Homo sapiens: one gene and its partners. The protein of the gene in region 1 interacts with the protein of each later gene in a biochemical or structural test. Each region holds a gene or a part of one and is shown on either strand. Other genes may lie near its edges.

What was found.
Region 2: the proteins of VDAC1 (region 1) and BCL2L1 form a complex in vitro, tested with the Homo sapiens proteins (4 studies listed by BioGRID).
Region 3: the proteins of VDAC1 (region 1) and PLAT form a complex in vitro, tested with the Homo sapiens proteins (one study listed by BioGRID).

What each region holds. Positions count from the first base shown.
Region 1 is NC_000005.10:133,987,958-133,994,980, forward strand, and holds part of VDAC1 (non-selective voltage-gated ion channel VDAC1), read right to left. Parts: intron 5,062-7,023; 5' UTR 5,056-5,061; coding exon 4,989-5,055; intron 4,399-4,988; coding exon 4,349-4,398; intron 3,198-4,348; coding exon 3,045-3,197; intron 2,951-3,044; coding exon 2,898-2,950; intron 1,287-2,897; coding exon of another isoform or gene 1,178-1,286; exon of another isoform or gene 1-1,177. UniProt on the Homo sapiens protein: Non-selective voltage-gated ion channel that mediates the transport of anions and cations through the mitochondrion outer membrane and plasma membrane.
Region 2 is NC_000020.11:31,663,956-31,670,889, reverse strand, and holds the end of BCL2L1 (bcl-2-like protein 1), read left to right. Parts: intron 1-3,742; exon of another isoform or gene 3,743-3,899; intron 3,900-4,803; coding exon 4,804-4,941; 3' UTR 4,942-6,432; downstream 6,433-6,934. UniProt on the Homo sapiens protein: Potent inhibitor of cell death. Inhibits activation of caspases. Appears to regulate cell death by blocking the voltage-dependent anion channel (VDAC) by binding to it and preventing the release of the caspase activator, CYC1, from the mitochondrial membrane.
Region 3 is NC_000008.11:42,204,564-42,212,550, forward strand, and holds the start of PLAT (tissue-type plasminogen activator isoform 1 preproprotein), read right to left. Parts: upstream 3,003-7,987; 5' UTR 2,931-3,002; intron 1-2,930. UniProt on the Homo sapiens protein: Converts the abundant, but inactive, zymogen plasminogen to plasmin by hydrolyzing a single Arg-Val bond in plasminogen.

The DNA of each region.
Region 1 (7,023 bases):
ATCAGACAAATCCAAACTGAGGGACATCTTAACAAAATAATTGGCCACTCTTTTTCAAAAGTGTCAGAGTCAGAAAATATTCCAGATTAGAGAAGACTTAACAATTAGATGCAATTTAGGAACCTGAACTGGATCACAGATCAGAAAAAAGACGTCATTGTGACAACAGATTAATTAACTATATGATATCAACATTAACTTGCTGATTCTGATCATTATAGTTACGTAAACCATTAACATTAGGAGCTGGGTGAAGAACACAGGAGAACTCTGCATACTATTTTTGCCACATTTTTTTCTAAGTATAAAATTATTTTGAAATAAAAAGTAAATTAAAAAAAAAAGGGGGGCAGGTGCAGTGGCTCACGCCTGTAAACCCGGCACTTTGGGAGGCTGAGGTGGGCAGATCACCCAAGGTCAGGAGTTCAAGACCAGCCTGACCAACATGGAGAGACCCTGTCTCTATTAAAAATACAAAATTAGCTGGGTGTGGTGGTGCATTCCTGTAATCCCGGCTACTCGGGAGGCTGAGGCAGGAGAAACACATGAATCTGCCCAGCACTTTGGGAGGCCGAGGCAGGTGGATCACGAGGTCAGAAGTTCAAGACCAGCCTGGCCAATACGGTGAAACCCCCGTCTCCACTAAAAATACAAAAATTAGCCAGGCATGGTGGCCCGTGTCTGTAGTCCCAGCTACTTGGGAGGCTGAGGCAAAAGGATCACTTGAACCCGGGAGGAGGAGGTTGCAGTGAGCTGAGATCACACCACTGCACTCCAGCCTGGGCGACAGAGCAAGACTCCGTCCCCCTCAACCCAAAAAAAAAAAAAACCAAAAAACTTTCCTTTGTGTTTTATACTGCATGGCCTGGAGACCTCTGCAAAGCTCCCTAAGGTCATGGGAAGGAAATCACCTACAAATTCCAAAGTGTGCTATCCCAGGGCAGCAGGCAAAGTCCCAGGCAGCAAATTCAAGCATGTGGGCACATCCTCCAGCCTCTCATCCTATCCCAGGATCTTTCCAGATAACCGCTCCCTGATACCATGGCAGAGTTCCTGGGGGGAGAGTGCACAGCACTGCAAAAAGGCAGTGCTCTTGCAGGAGAAACTACAGCAGCGAAGAGGAATGAGAGTAAATCAGCCCCGTAACAATGGTCTCTTCAGATCATCTATAGCCAAGCTATAAGACGACATCTCCAGAGGATAGGAACCATGTGTGCCCAGTCACTTGTGTGCACTGCACACCCAGCACAGGTCTGCACTTGGTAGATCCTCCCTCTAATAAATATCTGTTGGAAAGGAAAAAAGGAAGAAAGAAAAAAAATGAATGGCAAAACTGAAAAATTCATAGTGCCATTTAACTACACACTTAAAGATGTTAAGTTTTATATGTATATCTTACCACAATTTTTTTTTTTTTTTGGAGACAGAGTCTCTCTCTGTAGCCCAGGCTGGAGTGCAGTGGTGCGATCTCAGCTCACTGCAACCTCTGTCTCCTGGGTTCAAGCGATTCTCATGCCTCAGCATCCCAAGTATCTGGGACTACAGGCACGCACCATCATGCCTGGCTAATTTTTGTATTTTTATTAGAGATGGGGTTTTGCCATGTTGCCCAGGCTGGTCTCAAACTCCTGACCTCAAGCAATCCACCCACCTCAGCCTCCCAAAGTGCTGGGATCACAGGCATGAGTCACTGCATCCGACTCTTTTTTTTTTTTTTCTTTTGAGATGGAGTTTCGCTCTTCTTGCCCAGGGTGCAGTGCAATGGCACCACCTTGGCTCACCACAACCTCTGCCTCCCAGGTTCAAGCGATTCTCCTGCCTCAGCCTCCCAAGTAGCTGGGATTACAGGCATGCGCCCACCAGGCGCAGCTAATTTTTATGTTTAGTAGAGACAGGGTTTCTCCACGTTGGTCAGGCTGGTCTCAAACTTCCGACCTCAGGTGATTTGCCTGCCTCAGCCTCCCAAAGTGTTGGGATTACAGGCGTGAGCCACCACGCCCGGCCCACAATTTTTAAAAACTGAAATTCAGTACATGCCCTTGACCCTAACATCACTATATAAAACATCTTCCCCAGGTTTGGAAGACCCACCAATATGAGTGGAAAAAAACAAGGGTGTATTCTAAAAGGGAATAATTCCTTCTAGGCACTTTGAAAAGCACCCAGGAATTGAGGCAGACTACCATGCTATCATGCCAAGTGATGGTCAAGAACTAACAAGCCTATTACATCTGTGGCCAGAAGGCCTGGGGAAAGTGCAGCCTCAGGAGCCACCTTGCAGTTACACCCACAGGGTCTCAGTGTCCCTAAGCAGCAGGAAGCTGGGAGAAGGACTTCCATGCCTGAAGAAATGAGGCTGGCAACAGTGACCAGTTAGGCCCTGCTTCCAAATGTCACCCACTCCCGTTTGGTCATAGCCACTTACATCACCAGCAGCCTAACTCACATGAAATGGCTATTACTGAACAGAAATCCTGCAACCTCCATGGCAGAAACTAGGAGAACACTAACAAAATGCAGAATCTTATTACAAAACACGGCTAAACACTGGTCTGAATCCTCTATTAGAAAGTGAGCTCCTTGGCGGGTAACAATCATGGCCTGGGCACCCTTAGATCTCCAGATGGGCACAGGGCCAAGCACAGGTGGCACTTAGAAATCGTTTGTTGGGTAAACACCAGTCCTGAATTAGGAAGTGCTCATTATAGCATAGTCTGTTAGTGCATAGATGTGGATACGACCCCTGGGACCAAATCAAAACCAGAGGACTTAAATCGCCAGGTCTCGGAGACCATATTTTAGGTGCTGTCAGCCCCCAAAACATTTTGTCACAAAGGGCTTCCACCACCTGCAACATCAGAGAACATCCTTGTGGAGAAAACAGATGAAACTCTTACCCAGTGTTAGGTGAGAAGGATGAATCGAAGGTCAGCTTCAGTCCACGTGCAAGCTGAACAGAAAAGAAATTTGCCACTAGATTTAGTCACAAGGCAGGCTGGCAGATGCGAATTAATAAATCCACATCTTTTCACAGCAGCCATTACCTGATCTTCCACAGTAATCTCGGTGCCTAGTGTATTGTCGGTATTCCATTTCTCTGTAAACGTCAGGCCGTACTCAGTCCATCTGTACTTGGTTTCCAGACTGCCCGTCACTTTGGTGGTCTCAGTGTTGGCTGAGCCTGAGCTTGTAAATTCCTTCAAAGGAGAGAGAAGAGTCACAGCCTGCACCATAGCACTCACTTGGCTTCACTTCACTCCTAAACACTATACTTGCCTTTCTGCAAGAGGCAAGACCCTGAATGTGGGGGGGCCAAGGCTAACTCTACAATTCAAATAGATATTTAAAGTACAGATGGGAGTAAAGGAGCCTGCTATGTAAAGAAATCTTATGGGGAATTTGTTGTCAGCAGACAGCTTCCTTCCTCCCTGTAACTCTTCAGTCTGGACAGGAAAGCATCTCCCTTCCATCCTGGCTCCAGGGCAGTACAGAGAAAAAGCACTGAGCTAAAGCTGACACAGCGGTAATTCAAACCCAAAACTTCTTTCTTCCAACAATTACTGCACACATAATTTCAAAGGGACTACTAAGATTACTTTAAAAACACTTATGTGGTTGAATGCAGGTGAATTTGAAAATAAGAAGCACAAGGAAAACTAAAACTGAGACCTGACCCATTCTCCTCTATTACCCGCTGCTGAACTGGGGGCCTACTGGCATGGTTCCCCTGGACCACCCATCATGCAGAAAATGGAATGAATGTGAAAACCACAAAAACTGCCAGAATAAAAAAAAAAAAGTACCTTCTTTTGGCTTTGCGGGCCAGGTCACGACAGTTATTTGTTGATCTACAACAAATTCCCACGTTCCATACAATGGTCACTATTTGGGTAATGGGTACACTAGAAGCCCAAACCTCACCATTACACAATACATCCATGTAACAAACCTGCACATGTACACCCTGAATCTAAAATCTTTTTTAAAAATAAAAATAAGCCAGGCGCAGTGGCTCATGCCTATAATTCCAGCACTTTGGGAGGCCAAGGTGGGCGGATCACCTGAAGTCGGGAGTTCAAGACCAGCCTGACCAACATGGAAAAACCCCGTCTCTATTAAAAATACAAAATTAGCCGAGCATGGTGGCGGGTGCCTGTAATCCCAGCTACTCGGTAGGCTGAGGTAGGAGAATCGCTTGAACCCAAGAAGTGGAGGTTGTGGTGAGCTGAGATCACGCCATTGTACTCCAGCCTGGGCGACAAGAGCAAAACTCCATCTCAAAAATAAATAAATAAAATAAAATAAAAATAAATAAATACTCATGTTCCATGTGGGTTGGACAACTTACCAATCCATTCTCAGATTTTGTTTTCAAATCAAGCTTTATTAAGCCAAATCCTAAAGAAAGAAGAAGACAACTGTCAATAGGTTAAATAACTAGAGAACAGCACCTCTGCCTCCCTCATGGTTGCTTCAGGATGCTTTTTTAAAAAGAAGCACACTCCTGCCACAGGGGCTGAGGGCACCCAGTCTCTGCTGCTGCTCGTGGGGGGAGCTCTCAGCTGCCATGGAACAGCAGCAGACAGAATGGGCACCCCCACCTGGGTCCCACCTGCACTCCCAGCAGGGTCTGATAAGAAGACACCTGACAGCTGGCAAAGACACAGTTACTGGGCCTCGTGGGCATGTGCCTAAGCACAGGCTAAATATAGAAGCCGCGCTCCACTGCAGCAGCTTCCACAGGGCTGCTCCACACTTGGAAAAGAAAACAAGAATACCCACTTGACAGCACCAATGCAGGAGCCTGTCCAACTGGGTGCACAACCAAAGTTGCTACAATTGCCACACAAATGAAAGCTTCTTTTTTCCCTCACGTGAAAGTTCAGAACAGCTGACCTACCCAGGTCTCCTAAACAGTTATCGGTAAAGTCTCAAACATGCCAACTCAGTCTGTGAGCTGAAAGGCACCCCCTCTCTGCAACACTCACCATAGCCCTTGGTGAAGACATCCCTGGCAGATTTGCCAAGATCGGCATACGTGGGTGGCACAGCCATCTTCTGCTATGATAAAAGAATCACCAGAATAAATGCATTGATAATTAGGGAAATTAGCTTTCCATCAATAACAATTATTAGATGTAATTAGCAACCAATAAAAATCACCTAGCACTAAGACTACCAGGTAGCTTATCCTCCCAGATGGGCCAAGAAGCCCTTGCTGTCTTGTCCTTCATTTTGTGGCCAGAGCTTGAGACACTCAATGAGTCTTTGTTGACAGATGATCAACAATTTAGACCTCTCCTCCTCAGCATCCCCAGGACTGAGCCCAGGCCCAGAACAGAGTAGGAGTCAGGAAATATTTGCTTAATGAATAAACTGTCAAAGACACATTCCCATGAGCCAGTGACTTTACTGAATTGTAGGACTGTTGCCAATAAAACATATCATCTTACAAAATGTCAGCTACTAGGACATTAAATGTACCGAATAGAAATCAGAGCTTTTCATGGGAACATCATTTTCCATGTGGCTCTGATTTCATTCATTCAACAAATATTTATGGAGTACCTACTATATGCCAGGATGGGCCCAACTTTTCACAAAACTTTTGGACTTTATGGGAACCCACTTCATATTTCTCATAGAGAATACAGTAAAACCAAACCAGTTTGGCAGCTCTTCACATGGAAAAAACCCAAATACATCCTCCAAATACATTAAACAAATATTTATTGAGCTCCAGTGTAACTTTATTTTTAAAACCAACCATCAAAGGACTACTTGGGATTGCTGCATATCACTAAGTCAATCAACAAACATTTATTAAGCACCTCGGTGTTCAAGGAAGGAGAGTAACTCAAATAGTCTTTGCCCTAAGGACCACACTGCATTCCTGGAAGGCTTTGCTTTGGCATGCTGTATATGCTGTGTACACAGGATTAATATCCTAATCTGGGACTGTACATGGTGTGCTCTGCCCAGGAGGAGAGGGGGTCATGCATGAGAAAGCCTCATCTCCTGCACCTTCTCCATCCCCAGAATCATTAGTCTCAACCAGAAGGACCATTCCATTCGTTTTAAAATACAGTATACCTAAATTATCAAAATTCATCTGCATATATACCATCTGAAGTTACATGTATATATATTCACACAAATAAACACATATATGACATGCTCCTGGCATGTCATATGACATGATATGCTTCCATATCATCAATGGAAGTTGCATTCTTGGCCAAAGCTTTAACTTCAAAGGCATTGCAGGAGGCCACAGACTCACTGAGTATGTTGTAAAAGAAACAGTATAAACTTCTACAATTTTAAATTGTGAAGTTGTGATCCAGGTCCTACTTTACTTTTTCCAGATGCTTTGTTAATTTTATCCCAGCTCACTTTTGTGTCAGAGCACAGACAGAAGAGCAGCGAGCTGTTTACTCTGTCCTATTTTTGTCGCTGCTGTGTTATTTCTTGCACATGATCAGGCTGAAACCATGGACAGGTCAGCCCACATTAGTATCAGGGTAGAGAGATGAGGGGGGAAGATCCATTTTACACTGCCCGCCACTGGCTCTTTCCAGTCTGGGGGCTCCCCTCTCCCCACTTGTTCCTCCCTCCCAAACTAACCCTGTAGGTGCATCCCCCCGGGATAGACCAGGAAACCACCCACCAGAACCTCAAGAAATACCCTTTACCTGACACCTTCCTAGGAGAACAACTCTGGATTGAAAGCTGAGGCAATGTAACCCCAGGCAGACACAGAACATAACAGTAACGGGCCCAGAACATTCTCCACCCGACAGGGTTAACAAACCATCAGTGAACCAAGTACCCCTCTTCAGTGCTATGCCTCCCAGGGGGGCCACAAACTCAGCCGGGGTGGGGGCTGGGGAAGCAGAAGGAGAAGCAGTCCAGTGGTAATATCTGTGGGTCACCTAAGACCTCCCTGGACCTTAGGAGCCAGAGCCTTCCCCACGACTCTCCCCTGACCCCACAGAAGAGACGCCTCCCAGACACAGCAGC
Region 2 (6,934 bases), on another chromosome or scaffold:
CTGTTTATTTATCCAGAGCAGCCGCCTGCTGAGAAAATGGCTCTGTTTATTTCCAAGTGTGTCGTGTGAACCATGGGCTAAATATACCCACGCCACCGCCTCTCCAGCACCCGCCCTGGAACAGCACGCCCCATTTTGCTCATGCTGTCTCCGCAAAAGCAATCCTTAGAATCCACACCCCTTGGAAATACTACTCCCCTTCCCCAGGAAAAGAAGCTGAAATGGAAATGAAGGTTGTCATGACCAGGAACACATGAGTGGAAGCTGGGGCAGGTGAAATGAGAATGTTTCTATGGCACTGAAATGAGAATGTTCCCTCCACCCAGGAATGACTGTTTCTGGACAGTGAATGCTTTGTGCCCTTGTGGGGACAGCGCCTGTTTACTCCAACCCAGCCCCAGAGCTGAAAATTTCCTGTGGCTGCCAGCCGTCTACTTCAGGAAAGTTCCCATCAAGGGAGCCAGGCCTCTCCCATTTTGGCTGCAACCCCAGTGTCCCTGGTTTCTTGAGAGACATTTGGCCTCTTGGGATAACCAGGGCCTTCTCCTATGCTCTTCATAGTGTGGAACTCTCCCCCATCACAGATAAGCCTATTTTGTGACTCCACCTGGGTGTACTTGGGAGCAACAAAATCAAACCTCCTGTAAGAATATTTTTGTCTGCCAAGACCCGCAGAGGCTAGCTAGGATGGAGAGGGAGACAGGGAAGCATAGCCACGGCCCTAGTGCCCTCCTTTCCCCAGATCCTCCACCTCAACCCTGCTCCCACATTCCTTCTCCTGGAAATCCATCCTTTCAGCACTACTGACAGGACAGGTCCCTCCAGCCTCCAACTTCAGGGAAGTGTCCTGACATAGCAGCCCTCCCTTTGAAGCTAGGCAGTCTTGCAGTTTGATCCCGACTCTGCTATCTGTTTGCTGAGTGTTCCCTGCTTTAAATATCAGGCATCTTATTTGTGAAATGTGGCTCAAATCTACATCTCAGGATTCTGATGAAGATGAAATGGGATACCAATGCCTGACATGTAGTAGACATGCAATACATTTGTTAACTCATGTATTCTCATGTATTTACAGAGCAAGACACTGTTCTGAGCACTGGGTGTATAGGAACGAGACAGGACCTCTGCCCTCATCAAGACACATCTAGTATAGGCCGAGGGCAGTGGCTCACGCCTATAATCCCAGCACTTTGGGGCTGAAGAGGGCAGATCACTTGAGGTCAGGAGTTTGAGACCAGCCTGGTTAACATGGTGAAACCCCATCTCTACTAAAAATACAAAAATTAGCTAGGCGTGGTGGCAGGCGCTACTCGGGGGGCTGAGGCAGGAGAATGGCTTGAACCCGGGAGGCGGAGGTTGCAGTGAGCCAAGATTGCACCACTGCACTCCAGCCTAGGTGACAGAGCAAGTCTTCGTCTAAAAAAAAAAAAAGACACATCTAGTATGGAAGACACATCACAACAAAAACAAAGTACAGAATCTAGTTATGAGAAGTACAGCTTAATGGGGGAAAAATGTGGTGAGGTGGTGAGGCCGGGCATGGTGGCTCACGCCTGTAATCTCAGCACTTGGGAGGCTGAGGCAGAAGGATCCCTTGAGCCCAGGAGTTTGAGACCAGCCTAGGCAACAAAGTGAGACCCTGTCTCTACAAAAAATTTAGAAATATTAGCCAGGCATGGTGGTGTGTGCCTGTAGTGTGGCAGCTACTCAGGAGGCTGGGGCAGGAGGATCATCTGAGCCCAGGAGGTCAAGGCTGCAGTGAGCCATGATTGCGCCACTACAGTCTAACCTGAGTAACAGAGTGAGACACTGTCACAAAAATTTAAAAATTAAAAAATAAAGCACTGAGAAGAAAAGCTGGCATGGTGGTCATTCTGTGTAGTGTAGTTCCTGTAATCAGGAGGCTGAGGCAGGAAGATTGCTTGAGTCCAGGAGTTCAAAGTCAGTCTGGGCACATCTTTTAAAAACAAGAAAAAAAAAATGGTGGCTGGGCATGGTGGCTCATGCCTGTAATCCCAGCACTTTGGGAGGCCGAGGTGAGCAGATCACCTGAGGTCAGGAGTTTGAAACCAGCCTGACCCAACGTGGAGAAACCCCGTCTCTACTAAAAATACAAAATTAGCCAGGTGTGGTGGCACGCGCCTGTAATCCCAGCTACTTGGGAGGCTGAGGCAGGAGAATCGCTTGAACCTGGGAGGCGGAGGTTGCAGTGAGCTGAGATCGCGCCATTGTACTCCAGCCTGGGCAACAAGGGTAAAACTCTGTCTCCAAAAAAAAAAAAAAAAAGGCCAGATATGGTGGCTCGTGCCTGTAATCCCAGCACTTTGGGAGGCCGTGGGCGGATCACTTGAGGTCAGGAGTTTGAGACCAGCCTGGCCAATATGGCAAAACCTTATCTCTACTAAAAATATAAAAATTAGCTGGGCATGGTGGCACATGTCTGTAATCCCAGCTACTCAGGAGAATCGCTTGTACCCAGGAAGCAAAGGTTGCTGTGAGCCCAGTTTGTGCCACTGCACTCCAGCCTGGGGGACAGAATAAAACTGTGTCTCAAAAAAAAAAAAAACTGAGAAGAAAAATCAAGGAAGGTAAGGGGACAGGCAGAGAGAGACGGGGGTGGTGTACTGTTTTAGACAAGGCAGTCAGGGAAGGCCTCCCCTAGGAGGTGACATTTGAGGGGAGTCATGGTTGTGAAATGAGGGAGTGAGGCAGGCGACGACCTGGGGTCAGGTGCTCCAGGCAAGCAGGAACAGCAGACTCCTGCGGCAGGAGACGTTGGAGGAACAGCAAGGAGGCCAGTGGGACTGGAGTGAAGTTCAGGGGACAGGGGTGGGGAGGAGGCCAGAAAGTGTTGGAGCCAGATCCCACTAGACCTTGCTGGCCAGAGTAAGGAGTGGGGACTTTATTTCAGGTGTGATGGAAGCCCTGGGAAGGTTGAGAACTTGGAGTGACTGAATGGAGTGTGCTTCTGCAAGGGCTGAGATTCATGGGTCACTGCTCTCTACTGCCTTAATGTTGAGGATTCCTTCAGTCAAATTAGCAGCTCAGTGCACATGGCATTTTGCTAGGTACCAGGGATACAAAAATAAATGATGCTGCCCTTCTAAGTGCAGGAGAATGCTGCTGGAGGGCTTCCAGTGTTCTTAGAAAGCTCTGTGTGGAGCATGGACTGAGGGGGTTGTCAAGACTGGAAGTGGGCCACGGCAGGGGTCACAAGTGAGCAAATTGATAGGTGAGACCTGAGGCCAACTGGAGATGGCATGCCTGTCTTGAGGGAGCAGCCACTCGGCCATTTGGGACTGGTTGGAAATGTAGGCCCAGTGTGGCAGAGGTCTTGGTAGAGAGGCAAGAACCAGCCAGTAACTCATTCATTTTACACACACACACACACACACACACACACACGGTACTATGGTACTTCCTTTTTTTTTTTTGAACGGAGTCTCTGTCACCCAGACTGGAGTGCTGTGGTGCGATTTCTGCTCACTGCAACCTCCGTCTCCCGGGTTCAAACAATTCTCGTGCCTCAGCCTCCTGAGTAACTGGGATTACAGGTGCGTGCCACCACACCCGGCTAATTTTTGTATTTTTAGTAGAGACAGGGTTTCACCATGTTGGCCAGGCTGGTCTCGAACTCCTGACCTCAGGCAATCCACCCACCTCAGCCTCCCAAAGTGCTGGGATTATAGGCATGAGCCACCGCACCCAGCCTGGAACTTACTTCTTTCTTACATATTTCTAGGTGCCAGATGCCAGTTTTAGATTCTGGCTCCACCACTGACACAGCTGGGTGACCTTGATCCAGTCCCTGGACCCTCAGAGGCACAGCTTCTTGGCCTGTAAATGGGGAGAGACAGCCTGCATTGCAGAATTGTTGGGAGGATTAAAGGACAAATTGGGTACTACGCTTACTCATAAAAGTTATGTTCTAAGCGTCCTTCTCCCTGCCCCACAGGCTGCTGCACCCTGGGCTGGGTAATTTAGCCCACAGCTCCTCCTTCCCCCTGTCATGTGCTTCCCTTCTGACTTAGATTCAGGGCAGAGGGCTGTTGATCACAACCTCCTGGGCCCAGAGTCACACCCCCTGCAGTGGAGGATGTCCGGGACAAGGCCTCACAGACCCCGTGATGGAGGCCTGTCAGTCCTGCATCATTGTTACCCTCTCTCCTCTGCCCTGCTCTTCTTGTCACCAACCTGCCCACCAGAGGCTCCCTCCAGAGGGAGGAGCCTCTGGCTGAAGTCCCAGGACCCATTCTACCCCTGAATTGGCCTCAAATGACCCTGGGGATTTAGCCCTGGGCTTCCTTATCCCTCCCTCTGGTGCAGCAGTAGAAAATCTGAGGCCTAGTGGCTCCACACTCCACACTACCCTCAGACTCAACTCTAGGCTCCTTGCGGCTTCCAGGCCACGTATGGTCTGGCTCTTGCTCACCCCTGCACCATCATCTCCCCCATGCCCTCCTCTCCTGCACTCTGCTCCAGCCACCTGGCTTCCATCAGTTCCCTGACCCTGCCCATCTCGTTCCCACCTTGGATTCTGGAGTAAGTGCTACTTCTTGACTTACCTCAGACAGGGCACTTTCCTCCTCTCTACCTGTTTCTCAGCAGTAACATGGTTTGATTATCACCAATGGAGGGTCAAGAAAGAGGACCACCCTTAGCCCTTTACCTGGCCCAGAGTGGGCACAGATGGCTACAGTTTTTCACATCACCAAGGCCATAGCATGCAGATGGCCCCTTTCCCCACCCACCTACATCACTCTCTGAGGACTAAAACTGCACCTTCCTTCTCTCTCCCTGCAGGATACTTTTGTGGAACTCTATGGGAACAATGCAGCAGCCGAGAGCCGAAAGGGCCAGGAACGCTTCAACCGCTGGTTCCTGACGGGCATGACTGTGGCCGGCGTGGTTCTGCTGGGCTCACTCTTCAGTCGGAAATGACCAGACACTGACCATCCACTCTACCCTCCCACCCCCTTCTCTGCTCCACCACATCCTCCGTCCAGCCGCCATTGCCACCAGGAGAACCACTACATGCAGCCCATGCCCACCTGCCCATCACAGGGTTGGGCCCAGATCTGGTCCCTTGCAGCTAGTTTTCTAGAATTTATCACACTTCTGTGAGACCCCCACACCTCAGTTCCCTTGGCCTCAGAATTCACAAAATTTCCACAAAATCTGTCCAAAGGAGGCTGGCAGGTATGGAAGGGTTTGTGGCTGGGGGCAGGAGGGCCCTACCTGATTGGTGCAACCCTTACCCCTTAGCCTCCCTGAAAATGTTTTTCTGCCAGGGAGCTTGAAAGTTTTCAGAACCTCTTCCCCAGAAAGGAGACTAGATTGCCTTTGTTTTGATGTTTGTGGCCTCAGAATTGATCATTTTCCCCCCACTCTCCCCACACTAACCTGGGTTCCCTTTCCTTCCATCCCTACCCCCTAAGAGCCATTTAGGGGCCACTTTTGACTAGGGATTCAGGCTGCTTGGGATAAAGATGCAAGGACCAGGACTCCCTCCTCACCTCTGGACTGGCTAGAGTCCTCACTCCCAGTCCAAATGTCCTCCAGAAGCCTCTGGCTAGAGGCCAGCCCCACCCAGGAGGGAGGGGGCTATAGCTACAGGAAGCACCCCATGCCAAAGCTAGGGTGGCCCTTGCAGTTCAGCACCACCCTAGTCCCTTCCCCTCCCTGGCTCCCATGACCATACTGAGGGACCAACTGGGCCCAAGACAGATGCCCCAGAGCTGTTTATGGCCTCAGCTGCCTCACTTCCTACAAGAGCAGCCTGTGGCATCTTTGCCTTGGGCTGCTCCTCATGGTGGGTTCAGGGGACTCAGCCCTGAGGTGAAAGGGAGCTATCAGGAACAGCTATGGGAGCCCCAGGGTCTTCCCTACCTCAGGCAGGAAGGGCAGGAAGGAGAGCCTGCTGCATGGGGTGGGGTAGGGCTGACTAGAAGGGCCAGTCCTGCCTGGCCAGGCAGATCTGTGCCCCATGCCTGTCCAGCCTGGGCAGCCAGGCTGCCAAGGCCAGAGTGGCCTGGCCAGGAGCTCTTCAGGCCTCCCTCTCTCTTCTGCTCCACCCTTGGCCTGTCTCATCCCCAGGGGTCCCAGCCACCCCGGGCTCTCTGCTGTACATATTTGAGACTAGTTTTTATTCCTTGTGAAGATGATATACTATTTTTGTTAAGCGTGTCTGTATTTATGTGTGAGGAGCTGCTGGCTTGCAGTGCGCGTGCACGTGGAGAGCTGGTGCCCGGAGATTGGACGGCCTGATGCTCCCTCCCCTGCCCTGGTCCAGGGAAGCTGGCCGAGGGTCCTGGCTCCTGAGGGGCATCTGCCCCTCCCCCAACCCCCACCCCACACTTGTTCCAGCTCTTTGAAATAGTCTGTGTGAAGGTGAAAGTGCAGTTCAGTAATAAACTGTGTTTACTCAGTGAACAAAGAGCCTGGGCTCTTGTGTGCTCCGGGATGGGGAAAGGAGGGGCCGCTGGAGAGCTGGGTACTGGTCCTGGCTCTGCTGCCCTCAGGGGAGGGCCTTGGACAAGTCCTTCCTTCCTTCTGGGCCTGAATTTATCCACCTGTACGGTGACAGGGTTTTACTGGGTACATGCTGTGTGCTGGGCACTGGGGCTGCATGTGAACAGGACAGACACAGTCTCTGCCCTCAGGAGCTGACATTCTAGTGGGAGACACAGCCACTTGGCAAGTGTTTACTGAGCTCTGCTCTACACAGACATAGTCCTGGGCACTGGGGACTTCTTCAAACAAAACCTTTGCCTTTACAAGCATTCATTCTAGTGGAAGAGACAGACATAAGCACGGCTCTAGCTGCTGTAGGGTGTGGGGGAAAGGTGTGATGCCTTTCCTCACCCATCAGAAGGTTCTGTGACTGACATTCCTATAACAAAAGAAAAACAAAGTGGCAGTTCACACCCTGTAA
Region 3 (7,987 bases), on another chromosome or scaffold:
ACTTAGCTGGGTGTGGTGGCGGGCGCCTGTAATCCAAGCTATTTGGGAGGCTGAGGCAGGAAAATCGCTTGAACCTGGGAGGTGGAGGTTGCAGTGAGCCAAGATTGTGCCACTGCACCCCAGCCTGGTGAAAAAGCGAGACTCCATCTTAAAAAAAAAAAAAAAGAAAAGAAAAATTGGCCGGGCATGGTGGCTCATGCCTGTAATCCCAGCACTTTGGAGGAGGAGGGCAGATCACGAGGTCAGGAGTTCGAGACCAGCCTGATCAACATGGTGAAACCCTGTCTCTACTAAAAATATAAAAATTAGCCGGGCGTGGTGGCTTCAAGTGACACTACCAAGGTATGAAAGGAAAATAAATCTCAAGACCCCCAAATCACTAAGCCAAAGGGAAAAGCCAAGCTGGGAACTGCATGAGGCAAACCTGCCTCCCATTTTATTCCTACATAAGACGGCTACAAAGATAAAAGGCTACATACCTCTCTCACAATTTACCCACAAGGAAACTCCTTGTGGACTTCAAGATCTTTACCCTAAAACAGTTCTGCTGAACTTCACCTTGGCAATGCAAATGGGTACAGGACAAAGGACAGAACTCAAAGTCATCCCTCTGCTCACCTGAGACAAACGCATATCTGATTGCTTCCTCTGCCCTATTGTTTTTGTAAAAATGAAGATTCAGGCCAGGCATGTTGGCTCATGCCTGTAATCCCAGCACTTCGGGGGGCCGAGGTGGGTGGATCACCTGAGGTCACGAGTTCAAGACCAGTCTGGCCAACATGGTGAAACCCTGTCTCTACTAAAAATACAAAAATTAACCAGGTGTGGTGGCAGGCGCCTGTAATCCCAGTTACTCAGAAGGCTGAGGCAGGAGAATCACTTGAACCTGGGAGGTGGAGGTTGCAGTAGCCGGGATCATGCCATTGCACTCTAGCCTGGGCAAAAAGAGTGAAACTCCGTCTCAAAAAAAAAAGTAGATTCACTGAGCCAACTAAGGCATAAGTGACTCTTCCTCTGCCCCCCTCTCATATGTAAATTGTGTATTCAGTGAAAGGCTGACAAAGACTCAGAAGAATGAAGCCTTCTCTTATCTACCTATGACCTGGAAGCCCCTACTTCGAGTTGTCCTGCCTTTCCAGACCGAACCGGTGCACATCTTACATACATTGATTAATGTCTCATGTCTCCCTGAAATGTATGAAACCAAGCCATACCTTGGCCACCTTGGACATATGTCCTCAGGATCTCCAGAGGCCGTGTCACATGTGTGTTCTTAACATTGGCAAAATAAACTTTCTAAATTGACAGACCTGTCTCAGATACTTTTGGGTTCACAAAGGAGTGCCTGACTGTTTTTTGGAATCCTTTGAAATCTACTGGCCGCTGGCTCTGCTCAGCAACGTCAGGCCCTGGGGGAAATCAAAGCCTCAGTGAACTCAAAAACCAACAAAGGGGAACTGCTATTCCCAGCTATTCCCTGGCTGCCTGGACTGTCCCAGGCCTGTGATGAAGCAGGGGGAGCCGCAGACACTGGGAGAATCCGACGCGAGTCATTGTGAAATAAACCAAGCTGGTCTTGGGGAGTCGGGCAGAGAAGGAGCATTTTGGAGACAAGGGCAGCTTTCATTTGCTCCTGAGATTTTGATCTGGGGCTTTATCATTTGATCCAGAGCTTGGAGGCTTGCATCTTTGAGAACATTTTAGGTGGAATAAATGGGTGGGCAGGATGGAGCTATTCATATCTCAATACTCACAGTGTCCCTGCCAGTGCTGGAGTCCGACTCTGCCTGCACAGGAAGCACGCACCCAGCAGCTCATGCTGACCGTCATGGATTGAGTCTAGATCCCAGAATGAGCGTTCTTGCCACAGCAAGTACTGCTAGGAAGTCACCTTTGAGGGGACTCCACCTGACAATGGTATTTGCAAGACCCCTTCCCGGGACTGCAATGCACACGCATACACACACACACGACATTTTTTCTGTCATCAAGCAGCTACAGGAGACCACCATATTATTCCCAATTGGCCACCAAACACATCCTTGTTACCACACTTCTTTGAGCTTGAGTTGTCATTAGTTACCTGGGACCTCGGCGTGTTTTCGTCTTCCCTCCCTCCCTTCCTCTCTCCCTCCCTGTGAGGTTAAGAAAATAAAGATAATAACAGTGAAAATCTGGAGAACCCCACATGCTTCCTGCAGAGTGCTTTAGGAATAAAAGACATTAATGTCAGTTTTTTCCCCTGTAATTAAAATGTCCTTTAAGGAGGACTGCACACTTGACTGATGCACCCTGGGCAAAAAGCCAGAGGGCCAAACTGACCTGTGGAGACTTGTAGGGGTGGCACCTAGGGAGATCAGAGGCATTTCTCTATCCCACGGGGTAATGTGGGGTGTGAAAGCCACCTGCTTCTCTCTCCCAGCACCTAGCAAATAGTGCTCTGGAAGTAAGTCCCCCTCTGCCCCATCCACAGCCTCAGTTCCTTTCTGGGGGTTCATCGGGGGAGGGAGGAAACTAGGGGACCCAGCGGGCCCTCCCAGCTGTCACAGGCACGTGTCCCAAGGCAGCCGATTTTGCTTTTATTGCTTGCTCGTCTTGAGGTACTCCCATAGGCTATTTGGGGCTTTTCTGTATCGTTCTTTTCACTTTCCCCTTTACTCTGTCAGCAGAGGCTTCTCCAATGAATGCAACCTCCCTAGTCTCCCTTTCCCCGACTGCCTCTCCCCTCCAAAACACTCCAGCCTATCCCAATCACATGCAAATGCAAACAGACATCTCCCCTCTGGAGTGGATTCTAGCGGATCCTCTAGTTGCCTGAATTACAAAGTTGGTCCCTTGGTTAAAGCATTCCTTCACTGGCTCAGCTTGCTGGAAAGACTTTTAAGAGAAAGAAGAGGAGACAGACCCCAAGGTACAGAAACCCGACCTACCACGGCTTGCTCCTTCCCTTTCCTCGCAGAGGTTTTCTCTCCAGCCCTGGACTCCTGTAGGATCTCAGCTCTGAGCTCCCCACAGCTCCGGCCTCCTTTAAGTTTCCAGGCAGGGGGTGGGGTCGGTGGCCCCGGCTGGGCGGGTTTCTGTGTGGCGGGAGGATGCTCAGTGGACAGGGCCATGAGGGAGCTGAGGCAGGCCTGTTTTTATAAAGCAGGGGGAGGAAGTTCACGGTGGAAGCAGCACAGCCCATCCTGGCTTCGGGCCAGGCTGATTATTCACAGCCGTGATGTCATTGAATCGCAGGAATTTGGAAGTGGGATGGGACCTTAAGAATCATCTTCCTTTAGAGTCCTAGTGTCCCAGGCTTAAAAGGGACTTTCAGGACCCTGTGATGACAAGAAGTGTTTATAATTCTAAAGGCAGCAGGTTGGGGCTGGGAGTGGGGTGTCTTCTGGAATCTGTGGCTGTAGCTCTGGCCTCTCAGGACATGAGAGGTTAAAAGGACTGGAGGATGCACAAGGATTGGAACACTTTGTGTGGTGGCGGGAGCTCAGGGGGGTAGCCACTGAGAAGGCAGGACCAGCCTTGGGCTCACCTGCGGTAGGAGGTGCCCCCATGGGGGTTTGCTCCGGTAGGCATCTTTGGCCCTGTTCTGTAATTTTAGGGAGAATCTTTCTCTTCTTTGTAAAGTGCAGGGCTGCAGTAGGTGGCCTCCGGGGACTTTCCGGCTCCAGCATCCCCTTGAGTGGGCCCAGGGAATATACACAGGGCCTTGGGGCCAACATGCCTGAAATTCGATCAAAGCCATCAGCCCTTAAGCCCACCGAAGCCTTTCAGTATTTGCTTGTAAAATGCCCCTGGAAATAGACAAGCCATTTCCCTTGCTGACACCTTTTCAGATGACTGAGAAATAAAAGCCCTGTCGTGTAGGGGAAAGTCTTAGGTTTAAATCCGGCTGTGCCAGTAACTGGGATATGACCTCAATCAAGATTTTCAACTATGCTGAGCTCTGGCTTTTGCATCTGCAGGTCACGTGAGGATCAGAGAGAAGCCACGCATGTCAGGGCCCTGGCACATCACAGGGCTCAGCAGGAGCATCTATCATCATTGGTTCATGTCTGGCTGAGACCAGACCTTGTAAAAATGAGAGAGAGGTGAAAGAAAGAACGCAGGGAGGGAAGAGAAGTTTGGCAGAGGAAATTGTGGGATGACCGACTATTCAGGAGAGGCCAGATTTCATACATTCTGATCCTAAATATACTCATATTTGTCAAACCATGAGTGCTGAGTTTGAAGTTGAAAGGCACCTAACTGCTTTTCACATTGCTTTCAAACTGTTTTTCACATTTTTATGAAGCTGCAGCCCTGCTGATGGTCATTGTAGAAAAGGGGCACTGGGGTGGGTTGCCTGCTGAGCACGGGAGGTAGACCTCCCATGAGCAGCAGCAGCTGTGGGCCTGTCTGGTGGGCATGGGGCTGCTTTCCTGCAATGTGGTCTAAGATGGTGAGGATGGAGGCTTTTTTGGGGGGTGGGGCATTGCCGTTCAGCAGGGAGTGCTGGTCATGAGGACTCTCATTTGAACTCTTGAGAGGATGGTTTTCCACTGAATGGTTGCACTTAAATCCTGGATCCTGAACCTCTATGGAAAACAATATGGAGATTTCCCAAACTAAAAATAGAACATCCATTTGACCCGGCAATCCCACTACTGAGTATCTATTCAAAGAAAAAGAAATCATTACATCAAAAAGACACCTGCACTCACACGTTTATCACACACAATTCACAACAGCACAATTCACAATAGCAAAGGCACAGAATTAACCTAAGTGTCCATCAATGGAGGACTGGATAAAGAAAATGCACATATACACCGAGGAATACGACAAAGCCGTAAAAAACAATGAAGTCTGTCTTTTGGAGCAACATGGATGAAACTGGAGACCATTATCCTAACTGAAATAACTCAGAAACAGAAAGTGAACAACCACATGCACTCACTTATAAATAGGGGCTAAACAACGGGAGACTGAGAGGAGAGGGTTTGCAGATCATTAGCAGGGGCCCTGAGCTTTGCTGAAATATACCCGAATGATTAAGACCCAGCAATATCCTGCAGCCCTAGAAACTGGGGCCTCTGTGTTCCTTCTGAATTGAGATTGGTTTCCCTCGGACAGATTCTGGGGAAGCCTGAGAATGCAGAATTAGGCATGGGCAGGCTGATAAGGTGACAATGGGAGCCTTGATTTTAGTCAAGGGATCACTTCGAGGAAAAGAAAAGAACAGAAAAAAAGGAAAAAAATCTTGGTGACCTCACATCCTGTGAACATTTCATCAAAGCCCTTCATTTTCAAAAAAGAGAAATAAATCCAGGCCTAGATAACACGGAGACAAAGTGGGCACAGAGAAACTGGACGGGGAATTGCTGCAGGGCTTTTCCCAGCCAGCCTGGCTGTTTCTGCAGTGGGCGCCTCCCCCACAGAATGCATGAGTCATGGAGGTGGCGGGGGCAGAGAACAGGGGCTGCTCCAACCCTTCTCACTGGGGCAGGTGGCAGGATGGGTATTCGAACGAGAGCCATGCTGGGACTCTGCTCAGCTGGGTAAGAAATGATGTGATGTCTCTGGAAACTCAGAGAAAGGAAGAGTGGGCAAGAAACTTGTTTTTTTTTTTTTTATTTTCTTTTTTTTTTTTTTGAGACAGAGTCTTGCTCTGTCGCCCAGGCTAGAGTGCAGTGGTGTGATCTCGGCTCACTGCAACCTCCACCAGGTTCAAGCAATTCTCCTGCCTCAGCCTCCTGAGTAGCTGAGATTACAGGTGCCCGCCACCACGCCCAGCTAATTTTTTTGTATTTTTAGTAGAGACGGGGTTTCACCATGTTGGTCAGGCTGGTCTCAAACCCCCGACCTCGTGATCCACCTGCCTCAGCCTCCCAAAGTGCTGGGATTATAGGTGTGAGCCACCGCGCCCAGCCAAGAAACTTATGACAAGGATGTTTTGGACCAGAAGACGGACATTCTGTGTCTAAACTAAGATTTAATTTTGGTAGCCATCTGGCTTTGCAGGGGATGGGGTAAATGTCATGATGGATCTAAAATCGGTGTTATTGTCGCACGCCTTGTCTAGGTCTCCATCTAGACTGGGAATCCCCGGCCCTGGGGCCATGGGCTGGTATCTGTCCGTGGCCTGTTAGGAACCAGGCTGCGCAGCAGGAGGTGAGTGGCTGGAGAGCCAGTGAAGCTTCATCTGTGTTTACAGCCGCTCCCCATCACTCGCATTACTGCCTGAGCTGCACCTCCGGTTGGATCAGCAGTGGCACTAGATTCTCATAGGAGTGCAAACCCTATTGTGAACTGTACATGCGAGGGATTGAGGTTGTGCACTCCTTATAAGAATCTAATGCCTGATGATCTGTCGCTGTCTCCCATAACCCCCAGATGGGACCATCTAGTTATAAGAAAACAAGCTCAGGGTTCCCACTGATTCTACATTATGCTGAGTCATACCATTATTTCATTATATAATACAATGTAATAGTAATATAAATAAAGTGCACAATAAATGTAATCCTCTTGAATCATCCCGAAACTATCTCCCCTCCCTCTGTCCGTGGAAAAGCTATCTTTACAAAACTGGTCCCTGGTGCAAAAAAGACTGAGGACCACTGATCCAGACTAGACGCCCATGGTGGTAACAGCACCAGTTGTGTGAATTCCACACAAACAATGAGAAACATCAAAACAGGACAAGCTGAAGGCATGGGAAGGACTCTTACAAATCTTATTCTTGTTAAGAGCTGTTCACCAAACTGTAGGAGGAGGTCTTTATTCTTGCAACTCTTTGGTAAGTTTGAAATTATTTCAAAATATTAAGTTAAAAATTGGATTATTTTCTTGGAGCAGTAATTTTTTGAATATTTAGCCTGCTGACATGCATTTTTTAAATCCCCATACAAGATAATGATAAGTATTCAACATTGTTTTGACTGTCTAAATACTGAAAATAACTTAGATGTCAAAACATAGGGGCCTAGTAGACTAGGACATGTTAGAATACTGCAATATTGTGTAGCCATTGAGATGACTGATAACATAATTATACCGACATACCAAAATAAATCATAAAATTGCCTTGCCCAAAAGAAGAAGAAAATAAATTTGTACATGAGCTGTGATATAAATAATGTAGATCAGGCATGGTGTCTCACACCCATAATCCCAGCCCTTTGGGAGACCGAGGCAGGCAAATCACTTGAGATCAGGAGTTCGAGACCAGCCTGGCCAACATGGTGAAACCCCATCTCTACTAAAAACACAAAAATTAGTCAGGCATGGTGGCGGGCACCTGTAATCCCCGCTACTCGGGAAGCTGAGGCAAGAGAATCACTTGAACCTGGGAGGTGGAGGTTGCAGTGAGCCAAGATCGTGCAACAAGAGTGAGACTCCATCTCAAAAAATAATAATAATATAAACACTACATAGATGTATGGATAGAGATTAGAAGATAAAACTAGGTGTTGGAGTACTGTCATTATTGGTCAATTGTTTTTCAGTTCCTTTAGTGATGCTTCTAAATGACTTTCATAAAAGTAGATGTACTGGCTCCACACTGGGTGTGCCCAGCCCAACACTCTCTCTCTGGCACTGGAAGGACCTGGTTGTTCATGGAAGCGTGTCAGAAGAATAGGAATTTTCCTTAATAACTTATGATGGAGTATCCATGAGTTTATTCAAGTTATTTTTGAACACATCTAATTTTCAATCAATTCCTTTGTGGAGTGAGTTGAGTTTCTCAGGTTGGTTTGCTGATTCTCCGACACAGAACTTTCTTTCTCTGCTCCTAAATCTACCTCTTTTGAGCCTCCTAACACATCGCCAGCTATCAATCTTCAAATACACCCCCGTGGTGAATGTGCAGGCTACTGGAATGAGCCTGGGGTTGGAAGTCAGAAAGTTTCCTTTCTCTCCTCTGAGGTCAGTTGCACGACTCTGGTCCAGTCCATTTACCTTTGATAAGCTATAGGTTCCTTGCGTTTCAGATAAGAGAAGTAAA